Homo sapiens: one gene and its partners. The protein of the gene in region 1 purifies or fractionates together with the protein of each later gene. This does not show direct contact. Each region holds a gene or a part of one and is shown in the gene's direction. Other genes may lie near its edges.

What was found. The genes of interacting proteins can lie anywhere in the genome.
Region 2: the proteins of DRC8 (region 1) and IQGAP2 purify together in Homo sapiens (affinity purification with mass spectrometry; one large-scale study listed by BioGRID and IntAct). This does not show direct contact.
Region 3: the proteins of DRC8 (region 1) and MTHFSD purify together in Homo sapiens (affinity purification with mass spectrometry; one large-scale study listed by BioGRID and IntAct). This does not show direct contact.
Region 4: the proteins of DRC8 (region 1) and UBE3B purify together in Homo sapiens (affinity purification with mass spectrometry; one large-scale study listed by BioGRID and IntAct). This does not show direct contact.

Annotation. Positions count from the first base shown.
Region 1 is NC_000001.11:245,077,132-245,082,236, forward strand, and holds part of DRC8 (dynein regulatory complex protein 8), read left to right. Parts: intron 1-4,951; coding exon 4,952-5,031; exon of another isoform or gene 5,032-5,034; intron 5,035-5,105. UniProt on the Homo sapiens protein: Component of the nexin-dynein regulatory complex (N-DRC), a key regulator of ciliary/flagellar motility which maintains the alignment and integrity of the distal axoneme and regulates microtubule sliding in motile axonemes.
Region 2 is NC_000005.10:76,692,508-76,697,612, forward strand, and holds part of IQGAP2 (ras GTPase-activating-like protein IQGAP2), read left to right. Parts: intron 1-847; coding exon 848-935; intron 936-2,946; coding exon 2,947-3,159; intron 3,160-5,105. UniProt on the Homo sapiens protein: Binds to activated CDC42 and RAC1 but does not seem to stimulate their GTPase activity. Associates with calmodulin.
Region 3 is NC_000016.10:86,537,408-86,542,512, reverse strand, and holds part of MTHFSD (methenyltetrahydrofolate synthase domain-containing protein), read left to right. Parts: exon of another isoform or gene 1-232; coding exon of another isoform or gene 233-299; coding exon 300-412; intron 413-690; coding exon 691-816; intron 817-1,314; coding exon of another isoform or gene 1,315-1,323; exon of another isoform or gene 1,324-5,105.
Region 4 is NC_000012.12:109,479,857-109,484,961, forward strand, and holds part of UBE3B (ubiquitin-protein ligase E3B), read left to right. Parts: intron 1-1,780; 5' UTR 1,781-1,886; intron 1,887-3,674; 5' UTR 3,675-3,695; coding exon 3,696-3,856; intron 3,857-4,004; coding exon 4,005-4,125; intron 4,126-5,105. UniProt on the Homo sapiens protein: E3 ubiquitin-protein ligase which accepts ubiquitin from an E2 ubiquitin-conjugating enzyme in the form of a thioester and then directly transfers the ubiquitin to targeted substrates.

The DNA of each region.
Region 1 (5,105 bases):
TATATGTTAGTTATAATGTTTGCTAGAGCCGCTTTGATAGTGCACCACACAGAGTGGCTTAAACAATAGAAATTTATTGTCTCACAGTTCTAAAGGCTGAAAGTTTAAGATCAAGGTATCAGCATGATTAAACATCTACCCTATTCTTCTTGTTCTTTTTTATGACATTGGAATATACCATATTTGAAAAATGCATTTTAGAAAAACTAATGGAATCCAAATAAAGTTTGGAATTTAGTGACTAATAATATATTAATATTGATTCATTAGTTATGACAAGTGTACCATAATAATGTAAGAGTTAACAATAGAGGAATTGTATCACAAATGAAATTACAAATTATGTTACAAAGCAAAAGTAATCAAAACAGTGTGGTACTGGCACAAAAACAGTCATATAGACTATTGGAACAGAATAGAAAGCCTATAAATGAAGCCATGCATAAATGGCCAGCTAATCCTCAGCAAGAGTGCCAAGAATACACGATAGGGAAAGGATAGTGTCTTCAATGAATGATGATGGGAAAACTGTTATTTACATGGAGAAGAATGAAATTGGATCCGTATCTCACACCATACACAGAAATCAACTCAAGCTGGATTAAAGATTTAAATGTGAGACTTGGAGCCATAAAACTAGAAGAAAACATAGGGAAAATGCTCTTTGACATTGGTCTGGGCAATGATTTTTTGGATATGATACTAAGAGCACAGGCAACAAAAGCAAAAATAAACAAGTGGCACTACATCAAACTAAAAAGTTTCTGCATGCAAAAGAAACAAGGAGCAACCTATGGAATGGGAGAAAATGTTGCAAACCATACATTTGACAAGGGATTAATATTCCAATACATATAAGGAACTCAGACAACTCAATTGCAAAAACAAAAACGACCTAATTAAAAAAAACGGAAAAAAGGACCTGACATTTTTTCAAAGGTGATGTACAAATGTCCAACAGGTATATGAACATCATTGTTCATCAAGGAAATGCAAACCAAAACCACAATGGGATGTCACCTCACCCCTATTGTAATGGCTACTATCAAAAAGACAAAAGTGTTGGTGAGGGTGTGGAGAAAAAGGAACCTGTTGGTGGGAGTGTAAATTGGCACAGCCACTACGGAAAACAGTACGGGGGTTTCTCAAGAAACTAAAAATAGAATTACCATATCATCCAACAATCCCACTTATGGGTATAAGTCCCAAAAGAAATAAAATCAGAATCTCTAAGAGCTATCTGTATTGCCATGTTTATTGCAGCATTATTCACAGTAGCTAAGATATGGAAACAACGTGTCTATAAACAAATGAGTGGATAGTATATGTACACACACACACACGTATGTAATGGAATATTATTCAGCCTTAAAAAAGGAGGTCCTGCTATTTGCAACAACATGGATGAACTTGGAGGACATTATGCTAAGTGAAATAAGCCAGACACACAGAAAGACAAATACTGCATGATCTCTGTTACATTTTCAAAAGTCAAACTCATGGAAACAGAGAGTAGATGGGTAGTTAACCGGGGGTGGGGGTAGAGGAAATGGGAAAATGTTGGTCAAAGAGTACAAACTTTTAGTGATAAGAAAAACAATTTCTGATGTACAGTGTGGTAACTATGGTTAATAATTATTCTATACTTGAAATTTACTAAGAGAGTAGTTCTCAAGTATTCTCACCACACATACAAAAAAGGTAACTAGTGAGTCGGTGGATAAGTTAATTAGCCTGTGTGGTAATCATTCCACAAGGTATATGTATATCAAAACATCGTGTGGCACACCTTAAATATATGCAATTTTTATTTGTCCATCATACCTCAGTAAGACTGGAAAAAAATAGAGGAAACTGAGTGAGAGAGGTATATGGGAACTCTGTATTATATTTGGAACTTTTCTGTATATCTAAAACTATTCTAAAATCCAAAGGTTATTCAAATATAAAATCCTTTTATAATATAAAATAGTGTCTATATTAAACATTCCATGAATTCTGTACTTAGAATTATTGTATAATTTTATTGTTTTTAATGCCATTGCTTATACATGTTTTTGTACTCAAGAACAAATTGGATACGGCCTCTAGAGGACAGTGTTGGGTCATAGAAAGATTTTACAATTTCTGCCCAAGTTGAAGATGGTCATAATCATTTTTCTTCTTCTTTTCTAACCACAAGTCCTGTTTATTCGTTGTCCCTCTGTAAAAACAACAATAACAAAGAACACTTATGACCCCTCTGCTGTTCTGACTAGTTGGCTGTTTTGTTTTAACTTATTTTCGTATAATTTTGGTTCCACAAACATCTATTAGGCAAGAAAGATCTGCGGAGTTGGCACCATAATGTTCACATCCCTGAGGGTTTGTGAAAGTTGTGAGGGAACCCGGGGAAGCGATATGAGGCGTATATTATGTGTCATTTGTGAGTTCTTCCACGATGGAGACGGAATTATAGAGTTGAACTTCCTTTGGAAAAACAAACCACGGTTCGTAGCTTGATCAGGGTGCATGTAAGCTAAAGAGGGGTTTTGGTCTTTTAAAGGTTGAGACTGCCTGCTCTACAGTGGTTTGTTGGTGGTGGGAGGAAAGGAAAAAAACCATTGCTCTTGCTTCTGGAGCAAATTTCTGGAGTAATCAGAATAGCAACTCAACATTTTAATTTTAAAATTCCTCCTCCGGAGATAACCTCGTAGGATTGCCATTGTATTTGCCCGGGGCTCCTGAGGTGGGGAGTTGCAGAGTGCTGCTCAAGTGCGTCAGAGCCATATGAACATTCACCTGCAAAATGCTCGCCTTGGACTTAGAGGCAGCTGAAGACAATTGTTCATGAATGGATGGGCTCAGAAATTCTGAAACACACAATTCTGTCATTGAATGCGCTGAATTTTCTGCCGAGAGTGGAGTCTGAGGGTTCTACCTTGCTAGGTGTGAATCTAGTATAAACATTAAAAAATAGGAGTCATTTGGATGATGGTGTGTTCCACTTAGCAGCAACCTATAGTTTTTCGTTTGTTTGTTTTTGCTCGAAGAATAAATCTGTCCAAAGCTCATCTGCTGAATTGGGATCTTTGAGCCTTTTAATAGGAGTCTTGAGAGGGAGTGGAAAATGTACAGCTCCTTATAGATAGCCCGACATGAAAGTTAAGGTCAATGGTGTTTTGTTCAGCCACTCCATCCAAGTCGAACCCACGGGCAGGGATCTGTTTTGTTCTCATTTACTAGTGCTAAGTGCCAAACATTCTCTTTCTCAGGTATAGTCTTCTAATTTAGTGGTGGTGTGACAAAGTTCTATTTACCATATAGGTACTTAATACGTATTATGATGATTTAAGATGTAGTTGGTCCTTGAGATCGTGATTGGTCCCCTCAGCTGGTCCCTCACTCAGGATTCCTTATCTCAGGGAAAAGCATCACCTTATCCCAGTGGTATAAGTCAGAATCTTGGGAGTCATCCTTGAATCCTCTGTTTTTTCCATCCTTACTCATAATGAATGCAGGACCAGGTCCTACCAATTTCACTTCTTAAATATTTTTTGAAGCCATCCATTTCTCTCTCCATGGCCGCCACTCCAATCTAAGCCCTTGTCATATCTGCTTAGACTACTGAAGAAGCTGCCTCACCCTCAAGCAGTGTGCTCTTCCAAAACATGCATCTATGAGACCGTCACTGATTTCCCATTGTTCTCAGGCTAGCAACCTTATCACTGTCATGGACAAGAAGGCCCTGCCGTCGGGCCCCTGTCTCTCTTTCTAGCCTCATCTTGAAGCCTTCTCCCTGCTCCTTGTACTCCAGCCTCCTAGCCGCCAATGTGTCAGCAGAGAGTCTTCGCGTATTCAGTTTCCTCTAGGTGACTGTCTCTCCCCTGCTGTCTCTGTCTCATTACCTTCTACTCATACTCTCTAAATCAGCTGGAGTGTTATTTCCTCATGGATGACTTCCCTGGTCTCCTGGTCTAAGAAGTGTTCTTTATTTTTTTATTTTTATTTTATTTTATTATTTTATTTATTTTTTATTTTTTTATTTATCTATATATATATATTTTTTGAGACGGAGTCTCGCTCTGTCACGCAGGCTGGAATGCAGTGGCCTGATCTCGGCTCACTGCAAGCTCTGCCTCCTGGGTTCACGTGATTCTCCTGCCTCAGCCTCCTGAGTAGCTGGGACTACAGGCGCCCACCACCATGCCTGGCTAATTTTTTGTAGTTTTAGTAGAGACAGGGTTTCACCGTGTTAGCCAGGATGGTCTCCATCTGCTGACCTCGTGATCCACCCACCTCGGCCTCCCAAAGTTCTGGGATTACAGGCGTGAGCCATCGCACCCGGCAATTTTTTTATTTTTTATTTTTTTATTGAGATGGAGTCTCGCTCTGTTGCCCATACTGGAGTACAGTGGTGCGATCTCGGCTCACTGCAACCTCCATCTCCCGGGTTCAAGTGGTTCTCCTGCTTCAGCCTCCCGTGTAGCTTGGATTACAGGTGTGCGCCACTACGCCCATATAATTTTTGTATTTTTAGTAGAGACGGGGTTTCACCATGTTGGCCAAGCTGATCTTGAACTCCTGACCTCAAGTAATCTGCCTGCCTTGGCCTCCTCAAGTGCTGGGATTACAGGCGTGAGCCACCACGCCCGGCCGAGTGTTCTTTATTGGCTGTTCTTACAGACCCATGCTCCTTCCCCTCACTGTACTTACATCAGTTCACAGTGTCTTTGGTTGCTGTTTCTTGATTAATGTCTGTCTCCCTGATCAGAGTATCAGCTGTGCTCCAGTTGAATGATGAAGGTAAATCTTAAAAAGATAAAGTAAAGGACCATCTCTGTGAGCAGGGGTCACGCCCAAGTGTGCTCACCATCCAGAGTCTCTAGCACTTGGCACAGTGCTTGGAACAACTAGTTGCTGAATACATTTGTTGAATGACTAAATGGCTATTTACTTATTGAATGTTTAGGTAGAGGAAGAAGAACCCACTGGATACATTCGATTCGAAAAATTTCTTCCGGTGATGACAGAAATACTACTAGAAAGAAAGTAAGTAAGTAAATGCAATTGTTAAGGCAAAGTAATGGTCAGAATTATGAATCCATTCATTTCAGGACGCTTGG
Region 2 (5,105 bases), on another chromosome or scaffold:
TAAAAGTGAGCAAATTTGACCCTTTAGCTTTTATGTTAAAACCTTTGTACGTAATTACATAACATGATGCCTCCCTAGGAAGTGGTGGCCAATTGCCATAAAGAACACCTATGAGAGAACTACGGTTTTCGTACTTCCAGAAGAATTTTCCAGCTCTTTACTGTTTACTGAGAAGCTCTTCTATTCTCTTCCACCTGAAGACTGGAAGAAGACCTAACAAATAGGTTTCTTTGTTAACCCTATTTGTTAGTTGCTCAGGCCCTTGAACACCATCCTCCTCGCTGCTGTGTCAGCTGACAGACCAAGCCTCCACAGCCCACACTGAACGTTCGCTCCCACTGGTCTTCAGACTCTTTAATAGCTTTCTGATAGTAGGAAAGGTAACAGTTGGTCTGGCTCCTAAAGGCTTATGAGGTATTAAGCCAGCTCAGAAGTCTAGGTGCTATTAAAGTCAGGAAAGGAGAATATTAGATATCATTCCTGCACTCTGCAGTAGCAGGCCATATCAGCAGCACTTGCTCCCCCTGCCCATCAAAAAGTAGTCTCCGTCTAAAAAAGAAGGAAAAGTATTTAGAGAGGAAATCTTGTGATACACTTGTGCCCATGTTACTGACAGTATAATGCTACAACATCAAGCACAGAAAGCCCAGACTTTGATTATCAAGCATTCATAAACTTTCAGGAGCCTTATAGCAGACCTGGTGAATATCCGCAAGAATGTTTTATTTTAAGGTATTATCTTTGAAGCTTCAGTATTGTATGTGTTTGTGCACTCTCTTAGGAGAAACAGATTTTTGTGCATAAGGACTACAGTCTGAAAGTCTGTCTCTTTCTCTGGTTTGTTAAGGACCAAGAAGCTGATAATTGATGTGATCCGGAACCAGCCAGGGAACACATTGACAGAAATCTTAGAGACACCAGCAACTGCGCAACAGGTAATTTGACTTTAAGTGTAAAATAATAATAGACAGGTGTTGATTTTCTTCATAAATCTTTATGCCATATGTTTATTATCTCAGAGAAACTGTATCTGACATGGTCCGGAAGTAAGGAATTTTATCTATTACTGCAGTGGACTTAGTTCAGCCATATATAAACCTGTATGAAGTATCAATGGGAATGAAATAGAAAATACAGCACCAAATTCATGCCGAATATACTTTTGTCTTAACCTAGGATGATAGTTCTGGGTTTTTCAAAGCCCGGAAATGTTCATCATAATGGGCAAATAAGTCAGTTGAGAGAGTTCTAGCTGACAGGATATTGAAAAATACCTTTCACATTTTATGTATTTACTAACTTGAAACAAATAAGCGACTCACATGTTAAAGATGTTTTCCAAATGCTTCAGAAGCAAATGTTGAGTCCACTGAGTCAAAGCATCATTATGTTAGCGTAAGTGAGGTTTCACAACAATCTTGCATTTAGCTTTTTATTAACATCTTTGAAAATACGTCATTGTTCGTTCTAAAATAAATTCAAGGTTGTTATTTTAGTACCAATAATTGCCGCTCCCTAAACAAAAGTTAATTATTTAATTAACTATTTCTTAGCACAGCTACACATAATTTTCCTGGATCATTCTTAATTTAATTGATTGCCAAGGAATCCTTGTAATAGTTTTTAATTTAAAAAATATAAAAGGCTGGGCATGGTGGCTCATGTCTGTAATCCCAATACTTTGGAAGGCTGAGGTGTGTAGATCACTTGAGCCCAGGAGTTCAACACCAGCCTGGACAACACAGTGAGACCCCCATCTCTAATTTTTAAAAATTTTTAATAAAAAATGTAAAGCAAAACTTCAAATCACACGTTTGTTAATATGTGGGTATGTTTTAAACAATGTGGGTAAAATATTATACTAGGTTAGTATAAAAGACTTTTACTCCTTACTATTTTTCATTTTCCCCTAAATGTATCATGAATAAGTGACTAAGAACACAGACTTCTGAGATCAACTATACCTCTGCACCTCCTAGGTGTGTAACTCTGTGCACTTAGAAGCATTGCTGTGCCGCAGTTTCCTCAACTGTAAAATGGGTATAATAATAGTACCCAGCTCACAGGCAGGATTAAGTCAATTAAACATGTTAAGTGGGTACATCTGTATCTGGTGCACATTAAGTGCTCAACAATGTTGGCTGCTGCTTTTGTTATTTACTGCTAACCTGGTAATAATGTTCCAATAATATTGACCTACCTGTCCTGTGTCTAAGATTACTGTCCCTAACTAATAGTCGTTTCCTTAGACTTCATCTATTGGGTCAGTCAATTGTCTAGTACAATGAAATGGGAAGACCAATAGTCTCTTTTTGTTACTGTTTCCTTGAACAGACTATCCAAAGAGTATTCATTCATTCATTCATTTACTCATCGTTTGGGAATTTATAATGTGCTAGAATATTCTTATTCCCTTTGGCTCAAAGAAACTTTGCAAGTTTTTCAGAGTTGCTGGTTTGTGATTCCCTTATAAGAATAAAGCTCTCTGACTGCCTTACTGTTGGTTTAGTTTAGGACTCTCCATAAACATGGCTGATGTGTGAGAGTTTAGCTGGGTTCTGAACATTCAGGGTTCTCATAGCCACATTTCAATAGGTAATCTAGTTTTAGTTTCCTCAGCTAGCCTATCCAGGAATTGAAATCCTTCCATGTGGGGAACAAAGTAGCAGTTATCCATTAAAATATGTCCATTACTATAGTGATTTGTCACCTTGGCAATAAAGTAGCTATTGAGAATTTTTCCCAAATAAGGCTTGCTATCGAAAAGATGAAGTAATTCCTTTCAAAGACCTACTTCAAAACTCAGGAAGAACATGTTCTGGTTCTAGTCTCTGAACTTTGGCTGGAGGACTACTTTCATTTTGACATTAACTTGCATTGTGTAGCTTATGAACTGTGAAATTAGGGGATCAGAGAAAACTCAGCATCTTGATATTCTCTTTTCAGGAGGTAGACCATGCCACGGACATGGTGAGCCGTGCAATGATAGATTCCAGGACTCCAGAAGAAATGAAGCATAGCCAATCTATGATTGAAGATGCACAGCTGCCTCTTGAGCAGAAGAAGAGGAAAATCCAGAGGAATCTTCGGACGTTGGAACAGACTGGACACGTGTCATCCGAAAATAAATACCAAGACATTCTCAATGAGATTGCCAAGGTTTTTGGAAACAGTATTCTTTCTTCCTTCACTTAGCAGACATTTGCTAATCACCAGTCAAGTGCTGGGCACTCTGTGAGGTGGCATTAGGGATTCATGGTTGCATATGCTGTGGTTACTGCCCTCTTCAATGCTACAGATTTTTCAAGGTTTCAAAGCAGTTGATGACTTTTTTTTTTTTTTTTTTTTTTTGAGTTGGAGCCTCGCTCTGTTGCCCAGGCTGGAGTGCAGTGGCACAATCTCGACTCTCTGCAACTTCCGCCTCCCAGGTTCAAGCGATTCTCCTGCCTCAGCCTCCTGAGTAGCTGGGACTACAGGCACGCACCACCACGCCCAGCTAATTTTTGTATTTTTAGTAGAGACGGGGTTTCACCATGCTGGCCAGGCTGGTCTCGAAATCCTGACCCGGTGATCCACCGGGGCCTCCCAAGCAGTTGATGACTTTTAAGAGAAAACAATCACAACACTTTCATGTCATTAGGAGAGTTGAAACAGACCAGAAATAAATACTAAAAAATGTACTTGACAAGTTTGGTCTATACCTTTAAAGTTTTAAAAATAACACTATTGGAAGAGTTTTCTCCTGAGATGTTAGTTGTCATATAGCTCAGTTGCTCTTAGAACCTGCCACTGAGATGGAACTCTGTGTCCCTGATCATTTGTTTTTAAGCAATTTAGCCTAAATGCAGTTCAGACTTGAAGATTAGTTTCTGTTTTCTTATCCAATATTTTTACACTTGAGAAACTTCCTGAGCAAAGGATCTCAACTTAGTGCAATGAAACATCACAGGAAGTGGCTGAGATCTGTTTGTCAAGGATAAGGAAGTATATATTTGGGTTAGAAGGATATTTCATTCTTTTTATTCAAACATGCAAATTAATATGGATCTAGAGGTTAAAGGCAGTTAAATGACCAGAAAAAAAAAAAATTTCTCACCTTCTGGAAGGGAAATGCGCTCAGCTTTGTTCTTTGATAGAAAATTATGTTCAATTCTGGCAGTAGGCTTATTCCTTCTAGCCCAAGTGACTCAAGGGAAATAACATTTCTTTCTTTAGTTTGGGGGTAGAAATATTTCTATTTGGGAATATGGGGTAGATAAATATATGCTTTTGCTTTAAAAAAGAAAAAGGCTATCATGAAGACATGATATTCTATTTAATGAATATTCTATTATATGAAGAATTTCTATTTAATGAAGAATTCTATTTAATGAAGAATATTCTATTTAATGAAGAAATTTTACCTAAGGGCATGGGGAAGTTGTGGGGGAGTGTATGTGTATGTAGGTATTTCTTTGAATTCCTAGGGGAATGGTTTTTAACTTGTTTACAAAAGAAAAATAATATTAAACAGGCACCGTTTTCTTAAGTCAAACATTTTCATAACTTACCAATTAGAATTATGAAAAAAACTTATATCTGCAAGTTTAAATTTAGCATAGCTCTTGTAAGCTATAAGCAGCTTATGCAACTTAATGTTCTAGGAATTCTATTTAAATCCAAGTAATAGTTATCAATGTTGAATCTTTTCACTCAGTCTTGACAGCCCAGTGTTGTTTTTTCAAACCTTGGGAAATATTTGTCAGATGAAAAAGTTTGTTCTTTTCTTATTTTAAAAATGAATTTAACAATTAAATGTAAACTTTTTTAGTTTAAAGTACTATTCAAAGAGGAATATTCAAAATAGTCTGAAGAGGCTGGGCACAATGTCTCATGCCTATAATCCCAGCACTTCGGGAGGCCGAGGCGGGCAGATCACTTGAGGTCAGGAGTTCAAGACCAGCCTGACCAACATGGTGAAACCCTGTAACTACTAAAAATACAAAAATTAGCCAGGCATATTGGCACGGGCCTGCAGCCCCAGCTACTCAGGAGGCTGAGGCAGGAGAATCGCTTGAACCTGGAGGTAAAGGTTGCAGAGATCAGGCCACTGCACTCCAGCCTGG
Region 3 (5,105 bases), on another chromosome or scaffold:
ATAAAGCTGACATGAGTGTGATCTGTTTCCCTTTGTGACATGCTTGAACGGTCCAGTGTTCACGTCATTGTAGTTTCACCACCTGACATTGGCCGTGTTGTTATTCCTGTTGAATGCCCAAAAGTCCATCGTCAGTGTGGGCTGCTTGTGGGCATTTGGTGGGCATTTCTGTGAAAATTTCTATAGATTAGCTCGGGATATTGGGTTCAAGTTTCTTCTTCCACTGGACCTGATGGAAAATCCACTTCTCAGCGATGCCCCGGACCGCACAGCGATACTGATTCTCGGTTGTCTCTTAGGCTGGAGAATCGGGAAGGGAGAAGGCTACGCCGATCTGGAATATGCCATGATGGTATCCATGGGCGCCGTCAGCAAGGAGACGCCGGTGGTCACCATCGTCCACGACTGCCAGGTGCTCCTTATGAATGGGCTGAGCAGAGCCACTGCCATTCTCTTCTGAGGGAGCAGGGGGTGGGGAAGGAGACTCATCTGCTTCTGAACCATGCTGTGTGGCGAGTGGTGTGGATCAGCCAGGGCTGGACTTGCTAGTGGTACAGCGGCTAAGCCTTAGCCCCAGAGTGGATTTGGGGGTGCTTCTCTAGCCAGCCTCACGTTCCCACCGAGCGGGGCAGTGTGCACGACTGCAGTGGCATTCCCAGCAGCCCCTTTATCCCTCCTCTCTTCCCCCAGGTCGTGGACATCCCTGAAGAGCTTGTTGAGGAGCACGACATCACTGTGGACTACATCCTCACTCCAACCAGAGTCATCGCCACAGGCTGCAAGCGCCCAAAGCCAATGGGAATCACCTGGTTCAAGGTGGGTCACGGCAGTGGCCAGCTCTGGCCTGTAGCTTAGCGGCTCCTCCTCTTTTAAGTGTTTTCTGTCTGGCATGGGAGCTGTTGGCAATCCCAGCATGGCTGTATGTTAGAATCACCCAAGGAGCTTTTGAGCAATTTGGCTCCTGAATGACCATGTCCAGGCCCAGGCCTAAGAATCTGCGTATGGATCTCTGGGATTCGAAAAAGCAGCTAGGTTTAAAATCTGCCTCTGTAGATGGCAGAAATGGCCACATGGGCTGGGAGGGTGAATGCCTTGAAGCTTTACTTGCCCCCTGTTTTTCATTTTTAAGAGTTGTTTTCTGCCATCCCAGGCGCAGCAAGCTCTGCCTGGTGTTATCTCATTGGTCTTCCCTTTTTAAATCCAGATTTTTTTTTTTTTTTTACTGACGATCTGGATCTTCAAGCAGATCTAGCCTGAGTAGGAGGCAGTACCAAGCCTTTGTACATTTTATGCATTTGTGGTTTTTATCTCCAGATTAGGTAATGGCACAGGTTGCAAATTAGTCTGCAGTAGGAGTTTGACCCTGCAAATCAGCCTGTAGGTTATGATGCTGTCTCTGCTGGCAAACAGCCAGAATTACTGAGAAGACATTTGTGCTTCGTGTGGACAAAACTACTGGTCAAATAAGCATACGTGTCCACGTCTCCCATTCTTTAATCCCAAATCATTCACCGTTTGAATCCCTCCTTTGGGCATGGAAAATTAACAACATCACCTCTAAGGATGAACACAGAATACCTGCTGCTTTTGCCACAGCCCAGCCGGGACTTTCCCTGCAGGTGTCCTGGGCAGGCACTGCTGGGGACTCCCAGGTGTGCACTCCTCGGTTGGCCGCTGATGAACGCAGAGGGAACAGCCTTTGTAACCCAGAGTGTATGGGCGGCCCTCTAAGCGCACCAGGAGCACTGGGAAAGAAGGTGGTCACTGCTCTTCCAGGAAATGAAAATATCCCTTGATGTCTTTCTTAAGAGTCTTTCACTTGGGAACTCTGGTCCACAGCTTCCTTGTAAGTGGAAGCCAATGCACGAGACAGAGCATAAGGCTGGCGGCTCCTCAGAGCCGAGAACAGGGATGGTGGGAAGGTTGCACAAGGGCATTAGCCACAGCGAAGCTGCTGGCAGTCCCTCTAGGCCTGCGCGTCATAGAAGGGGCCCATTGCAGCCGTATTAGGGGGAGCCTGGACAGCCTCCTCTGGCAGAGAGCTAGGAACAGCCTGGTTACATTCTGAAGATTTTAACTAGAAAAGTAGCAACAAATGAAGTCATCGGACACGTTAGGTGAATATATCCTCCTACAGAAAAGCAAACCAAACTCAGCCAGGGTTCCTGAGGGTCAGCACTGTGGGGGAGGGAGGGCATCGGGGGCTTCGCTGTTTGTCGAGACCCTCTTCCAGGAAAGTCACTGTTTATGAGGCCTCAGCAAGAATCTCAGACTTTTCAAAGGCCATCTCTCATTTTGGGTCCTGTGTTCTCAGTTTCACCACCTGATAATCCCTTTGCATGGTCAGAGGAAATCAGTCACTTTCTACAGCTCCCAGTGTTTCTGTTTTAGTCTCGCTAGCCATGCAGCCAAAGTGAGTTTCATCAACATTTGTTGGGAGAAAAAAAAAATCTCTAAATTCCATTAAAGAGTTTGAATGTGGAAGGCGGACAGTTCAGTGCTAGGTTATAATATTGTTTCAAATTGACTTTGGCAAATATTTGGCATACCTCTCCATGATATTATAGTGATAGGTTTATAGGTTTATAGGTTTTAGAATCTAAGAATTTACCTCTTGGCTATCTTACTGGAATATCTGGGATGCATTATAGATCTCTTGATGAAGGATGTGAAGGAAGTACAAACTGCCTTTTCTTCACCCATTTTCAATACGCAAAGACAGTTCAGCATCTAATTCCCTGGCCTTTGTTCCACCTTTCCAGTAGTTGACGTCCTGCCCTGTCTTACAGACCAGTCTAATACACGCTCTGTTTGAGTGCAGTTACTGTAAACAGCGCATCTCCTTGATTGACCATCAACATCCGGTGGGCTCTTCTCAGCTTGTGTCTCATGATTTTAAAGAAAGGAAACCAGGTGGCCAGTGAGTGTATTGCTGAGTTTAGCAGTCAAGAGTTTCCCACTTCATAGCTCTATCTGTAACTTCCAACACACTCTCCAAGCCCTCTCGTTTGTCTTAGAAATAAAGGCAGTGCATGTAGAATGCCCAGGACGATGCTTGGGAGCATGGCCGCAGTCAACATCACTGTCGCAAATGCGAGGTAGGCTGTTAATAAAGTTGAGAAATCTTCCTGGACGCCATGCATGTTTCTTCTTTCTCTGTGCTGCTGGCAGAATTCTTAGGATGGTCCTTCTGGGTAGCTCACTGAGCCAAGATGGGGTCCTGCACGTGTCTCCCTATGGCCACGGGTTGTACCTCTCAGTGGAGGACAAGGAGAGAAAGGCACTGACCCCGGCTCTCCAGCCCTTTGGCTGCTCCATACCGCCTGTGACCATGCAGGTGCTTTGCAGAGACCCCCCACAAGTAGCCGTTGTTCTTCCTCCTCCATATCATCTTCAGCAAAGGAAGCCTGGTAGGGTTGGGTAAGGGGCTTAAAATGCATTCCAGCACTCTGCACCCTCATCAGAAACTTTCTGGCAGGAAGAGAGAGAGGTACAGAGACATTCCCCAGAAGGCTCTGCTTTTGCTCCTCCTTTCTAGAAGGCACATTGTCTGCTCTGTCCTCGTGTGCTCTTCTGTCTCTGGGGGCGATCGCCTCACCCACAGACCCGTGAAACTCAGGGTGACTTGGCCACATCCAAACCACAAGATGCATAGCCGCTGCTGCCCCATCTCCCAGTCACCGTACCCTGAAAACCCAGGACTCCCTGAACCCCTAGCTACACCAAGGATCTCTGCCAGGCTGGAGATGGTACCAGAGACCTGGGCCTGAAGCTGGAACGTGGTCCTGAACCTCTGGGCAGTTCGTCCAGCTCCATTGATCTTCTGATCCTTGGAGACAGTCGTGCGATGTCTCTCCCTGTGACAGCCGTGTGTCAGGTAGTCTGTAGTGGGCTGAGAGCCATTTGGCTGCCTCAGCTCTGTGCCGTAGCAAACCGAAAATGGCTGAAGCCCTGGACCCGCTAGTGTCGAGCAGCCCTGGCCACTGACCAGTGCCTGCCCTTGTCGGGAGTGAAATGCAGAGTCCCAGCCAGCTCCCAGGGCTGAGTGGTGTCCTATGAGTCACTGACAACAGAAGAACGGAACTTCCTGTTGAGACCCGTGGTCACCTGCTGGACCCGAGTGAGCACCTGGACAGCAGCAGCAGGTGAAGCCTCTGTGGGGAGACCCGGGTCTGCCACTGCCGCCGCCACCCTGGAAGCTCTGTTCTGCCCAAGCTGCACCTGGACCGTGGAGACCCACCACACCATTGTAGTGTTTCCCTAGAGCTGGCCTGAGCTGGGGGCAGGAATGATATATGTTAAGAATACCTTGGAGACAGAGAGGAATGGTAGGACATGGCTACAGACTCCAGAACCTCAACTGTGCCGAAGGCAAGGCCAGCCTGAGTGGGAGACTGAGGGCTCAGGAGAAGCCACTCGGGCACCCACAAGCCTGTGGTCCCCGTCACCAGACCCACAAACCAGAGGGCCTTTTGGCCTTTGCCCAGTGGAAGGACTGTCAGTCACACACATCTTCTCACCCGTCCTGTGCTCCTCACCATCAGCACATGGCTCCTGATTACCACGGGGTTGGCGAGGACACCATAGACCAAGGCCCGTGCATCTGACTTTCCTGGGTCAACTCATTTGCTCCTTAATGAGGGAAACTGGATTCTTCCAGAGCCACGCTCGTGCTTATACTCAAGGAAACAATTCTGTAGCTTTCAAAGCATGGCCCGCTCTTCCCCACACAGCCTGCTGGGGAGTGTGGTTCTCAGATGGCCACAGTATGCTGCATGATCTACAGATACCTCAAGAAAAAGGATTTGAGAACAGGGCTCCTCTGTGAGCAGCAGTCCTGGGACAGCAAAGCCCAATTTCAGATCCCGCATAAAACACAATTGTTCTCTGCAAATAATGCAGCTAACTGTGAACCAACCCCTACCCACAACTGGGCCAGTATGTTTAGAGAGCTGAGAGAGGCTTTCATTGAAAAAGAATTACTGTATTTGACCTGATAATTTACCTTCTAGGAATCAGTCCTAGAGAAATATGTAGAAATTCAGATAAGGACTTATCTGAATCTCTATAGAAGACATGCAGTGCCTTAAAATGGGGGTGGGGGG
Region 4 (5,105 bases), on another chromosome or scaffold:
TGCAACTTTGTTTTTCTTTTGGGAAGAGGCTCCCTCTTCCCCTTCTAATTCCATGGACCCTCTGCCATTGAGGCACTGTCTGCATGTCATGGAGGGAGCATATCATTGTGCTTGTGGCTTGGGCCCTGCTCTTTTGCAGTCCTGAGGAGCTTGAATCTGTTACTCACTCTAAACAACAGGGCCAGGAGTTCATAGCCCAAGGGACAGGACTGGTGAATCTTAGTGCATTTAAGATAGGAAAAAAGTTAATGGGTGAGAAATGTCAGACTGCCAGCATTATTTCCTACCCAGAGAACCTTAGTAACTGTCCAGGTGGGAGCCTCTGCTGAAGAGTTTTTTTTTTTTTTTAATCCTTGTGTCTATAAAAATAATACACCAGTTAGACTTCCTGACTATACACTCTACAATGTGCACTCAAGTACCTCCATAGGTACCTGATAAGCATCATCACATTTAGTCCTCATTATCAACCTCTAAGCCAATTAATAGATGAAGATGGAAAGACTCAGGGCCCAGTGTGGTGGCTCATACCTGTAATCCTAACATTTTGGGAGGCCAAGGCAGGAGGATCTCTTGAGCCCAGGAGTTTGAGACCACCAACCTGGGCAATATAGCGAGACCCCACCTCTACAAAAAATTTAAAAACTAGCCAGATGTGGTGGTATGTACCTGTGGTCCCAGCTACTTGAGAAGCTGAGGTGGGAGAATCGCTTGAGCCTGGGAGGTAGAAGCTGCAATGAACCATGATTGCACCACTGCACTCCAGCTTGGATGACAGAGCGAGACCCTGCCTTAAAAAAAAAAAAAAGACTTAGACATTCTCCCTATAGTATGTGGCAGAGCTAGGGACTGGCTCCAACTCTGTGTGACTCCCAAAGCCCGTGTGCCCCTCACTGTGCAGTGCTGCTTCACCATGTGCATGCTGTGGAAAATTTAGAAAATACAGACCAATTAAGAAAAATTTCCCGCAATTTCAGTACCTCAAAACAGCCACTGGTAACATGTTGGTATAGTTCATGCTAGTTTTGTATCTGTGTGTGTGTACATTTTTCTTTAGGTAATTGGGGTCTTATTGGTCCACAGGCAGCCCTTTATTCACTTCTAAGGCATAAACGTTTTTCCATTATCATTAAAAATGTCAAACACGCTGAGGCAGGAGAATGGCATGAACCCGGGAGGCGGAGCTTGCAGTGAGCCAATATCGCGCCACTGCACTCCAGCCTGGGCGACAGAGCAAGACTCCGTCTCAAAAAAAAAAAAAAAAATGTCAAACATGGCCGGGCACAGTGGCTCACACCTGTAACCCCAACTGAGATAGGGTATGGTGGCACACACCTGTAATCCCAGCTACTTGGGAGGCTGAAGCAGGAGAATCGCTTGAACCTGGGAGCAGAAGTTATAGTGAGCTGAAATTATGCCGCTGCACTCCAACCTCAGCGACAGAGTGAGACTATCTCAAAAAAAAAAAAAAGGAAAATGTCAAATATAATTTTCAGTAGCTCTTTAACATTCCATGACCTCTAAGTTATTTTGCTTCCCATCACAGCTGTAATTCAACAACAACTTTGGGATTTATTTTCAACATATTCCCTTTAAACTGTGAGGATTGAAGAGATACAGTATAACATTTAGATGAGACATTAAATAAAGAGGACCCAGTGGTGTTTTTAAAAAACCATTGGCATTGTAGTTACTACTTTTACTCAGTGAGGAAGATGTATGATACCACACCTATAAAATTTAACCCTAAGTCTGGATTTTTTTCTTCTGCTTCTGCCAGAAAAAATAACAAGCTTTTCTGAAGTGAGAAGCTGTTCTCAGCCACGAGTCCTGTGCAAGATCACTAATGATTACCTGGCATTTCTGCGACACAGGCAGGTCCTCAGGTGAGATCTCCAGACTTTACTGCTGGGGCAGGAAGCGTAAATGATTCAGAAGATGGCTACCGTTTCTCTCCAAGCCTTTTATAAGTTGGTGCAAAAGTAATTACGACTTAGTGTTTTTTTAAAAAAGTTGAAACCCACAATTACTTTTGTACCAACCTAATACCTTCCCTCCTGTGGTCAAGTGGGCTCTGTTAGTTTGTTTCAAGGATTACTGATGATGTTTGACAGATCACTGTTGAGAAGGGGTCACAGAGGTCCCTTGATATGTTCATGTGGTGGGAGGCTTGCACCAACTTTTTTTTGGTTATAAAAGGGTATTATTTTATTGTCCTTATTAATACTAATAATAGAGCACACTTATTAAATGCCTTTCAATAACACGTAATTAATTTAATACCTCTAGGAGATAATACTATTAAGTCCAATGTTTATTTTAATAATTTTTAAATTTCTTTGTATGGATGTAGGGGGTACAGGTTTCTTATATGCATATATTGTGTAATGGTGGAGTCTGGGCTTTTAGGGCACCCATCACCCGAATGGTGAACATTGTACCAATAAATAATTGTTCAATCCTTACCCCTGTCCCATCTCCCACCTTTTGGAGTCTCCATTATCTTATTCCACTCTGTTTGTCCATGTGGGCCCATTGTTTTGCTCCCACTTCTAAGTGAGGTCATGCAGTATTTGCCTTTCAGTTTCAGAGTTATTTCACTTAGGATAGATGGCCCCTAGTTCTAGCCATCCGACTTTTTACTCTGGATGATATTTTCATGTGGGTGCTACTTCAAGTAAAGTAGCCTGGTAGAGAGATTGTTTTCTGGAAGTCTGGATTTCTGAATAATTCATTTCAGTGTTTTTAACTGGGCTGATTGTGCATTTTGTATAGAATGGCAATGTCATCAAGCATCTAAAGAAATCATCTCAATATGGGAGCCTCCGGGGGTCAGTGCTGTGTGCTTTAGGCTGCTAGCAAAAGCTGTTCCTTTAGGAAAAAACAGTTACTGGTGATTTAGATAAAAACTTAGTATATAATTTAGAGCTGCTCTTCAGAAAAGCACCCGTTAGTGGACAGGACCAGTTCTACAGTAAAGTCTTCACTGGTCCTTGGCAGGATGGTAATTGTAAGGACAATGGAATAAGCTATACATAAAACCAAATATCTTCAATATAATGGACTGTCTTGCATTCTGAAGTGTGTACCTTTTGCTTTGTTAATGTTGAAATGGCCCTTTCTTTTTTGTGTGCTGTCACAAAGTATGCACTGGTAAATATTTGTTTAGTGAATGGATGAATACAATGATGATGACAGCAAATAATCATGTTGGATTTTTCTCTCGAGTCCTTACTTGGCAAAATAAAAGCTGACCTCTCAGTTTTGGTTTCCCAAATACTGTGGACTACTCCAGAAAATTCAAATATCTGGGAATCTTTGACCTATAGGATACCTGGTTTGAATTAGAGCTTTATGGGTGGGACTGATTCATTCTTTGTTCATTCGTAAAGCTGGGCCTGCCCTTATCCTATGCCAGGTGCTGTGCTCTTTCCCTTAAGAAGATGTGATTATTTAATATAGGATGTAGCATCCCTGGTCTTGGTGAGTTGCATGAAAGAGCCTATAGGAGGTAGGGACTTGTGCCGGAGAGCTGTTAGCGCTTTGGAGGGTGTTGACAGGTCCTGAGTATCTCTGCTGCCCAGGTCCCTGCCCACCCTCTGCTCTTGAGCCCCTTTCTGTGTGTGTTTTTCACACAACAATCTACAACACCCACTTGCCCATTTTCCTTGCAGGGTTTGTGCAAGTTTGCAAACATGTTCACCCTGTCTCAGACCTCGAGAGCATGGTTCATCGATAGAGCCCGTCAGGCACGAGAAGAAAGGCTTGTGCAGAAGGAACGGGAGCGGGCAGCTGTTGTGATCCAGGCCCATGTCCGGAGTTTTCTCTGTCGGAGTCGACTGCAGAGAGATATCAGGTAAGGGCTAGGATCTCCCTAGCACATGATTCTCTGGCTCCCAATTAATAGCAGATAAATGAGTTTTTTCTCATAAAGTGCTTGAAAAGCCTTCCAGGTGCTACAAGCTGTTAATTTAAAATGTCTTTTTTTGCACTTTCTTTTCTAGGAGAGAGATTGATGACTTTTTTAAAGCAGATGACCCTGAGTCCACTAAAAGAAGTGCACTTTGTATTTTCAAGATTGCCAGGAAACTGCTGTTCCTATTCAGAATCAAAGAGGATAATGAGGTAAAACGATAATAGCAAACATGTATAATACTTCCATATGTCAGATCTTTTATAATTATTGATATTAACTCAGTTCTTATAGCAGCTTTATGAGGTAATTACTGTCACCCTCACATCCTGTCCCTTTTGTTTTCTTGGGACCTGTTTTGGAGGGATTATGCCCAGTGCTTTTAGGAATCTTTTCACATTGACCATTATAAGCACAAGTTGAACTCAGATGCATGCAAGAGTCAGGAAGTTTAGGTAAATGAGTAAAAAAAACATATATGAGATAAAACATAATACAAAATACAAATCATATTAAACGGTAACTGACAGGCAGCAGTGGTAAGGACATCAAAAGGAGTAGCAGGGTCTGTGGCCTGCCCCATCCACGGGGAGCAGCTACTACACACCTCGGTGGTGGACTCATACTCTGATTTTTTTTTGAGATGAAGTCTCTCTCTGTCGCCAGGCTGGTGTGCAGTGGCGCAGTCTTGGCTCACTGCCAGTCTTCACCTCCCGGGTTCAAGCAGTTCTCCGGCCTCAGCCTCCCTAGTATCTGGAACTATAGGCTCGTGCCACCACGCCCAGCTAATTTTTGTATTTTTAGTAGAGATGGGGTTTCACCATGTTGGCCAGGATAGTCTCGATCTCTTAGCCTTGTGATCTGCCCGCCTCAGCCTCCCAGAGTGCTGGGATTACAGGCGTGAGCCACTGTACCCAGCCTCTGATTTTTTTTTTTTTTTTTTAAAGAGATGCCAAAGATCTGAGTTTTTATGCTCAATGTTCGTTCATTCATTCTTTCATATTCTGAGACAGGGTCTCACTGTCGCCCAGGCTGGAGTGCAGTAGCACTATCACAGCTCACTATAGTCTTGACCTCCCAAGTCTCAAACGATTCTTCTGCCTCAGCCTCCTCAGTAGCTGGGACTGCAGGTGTGTGCCACCATGCACAGCAAGTTTTTGTATTTTTTGTAGAGATAGGGTTTTACCTTATT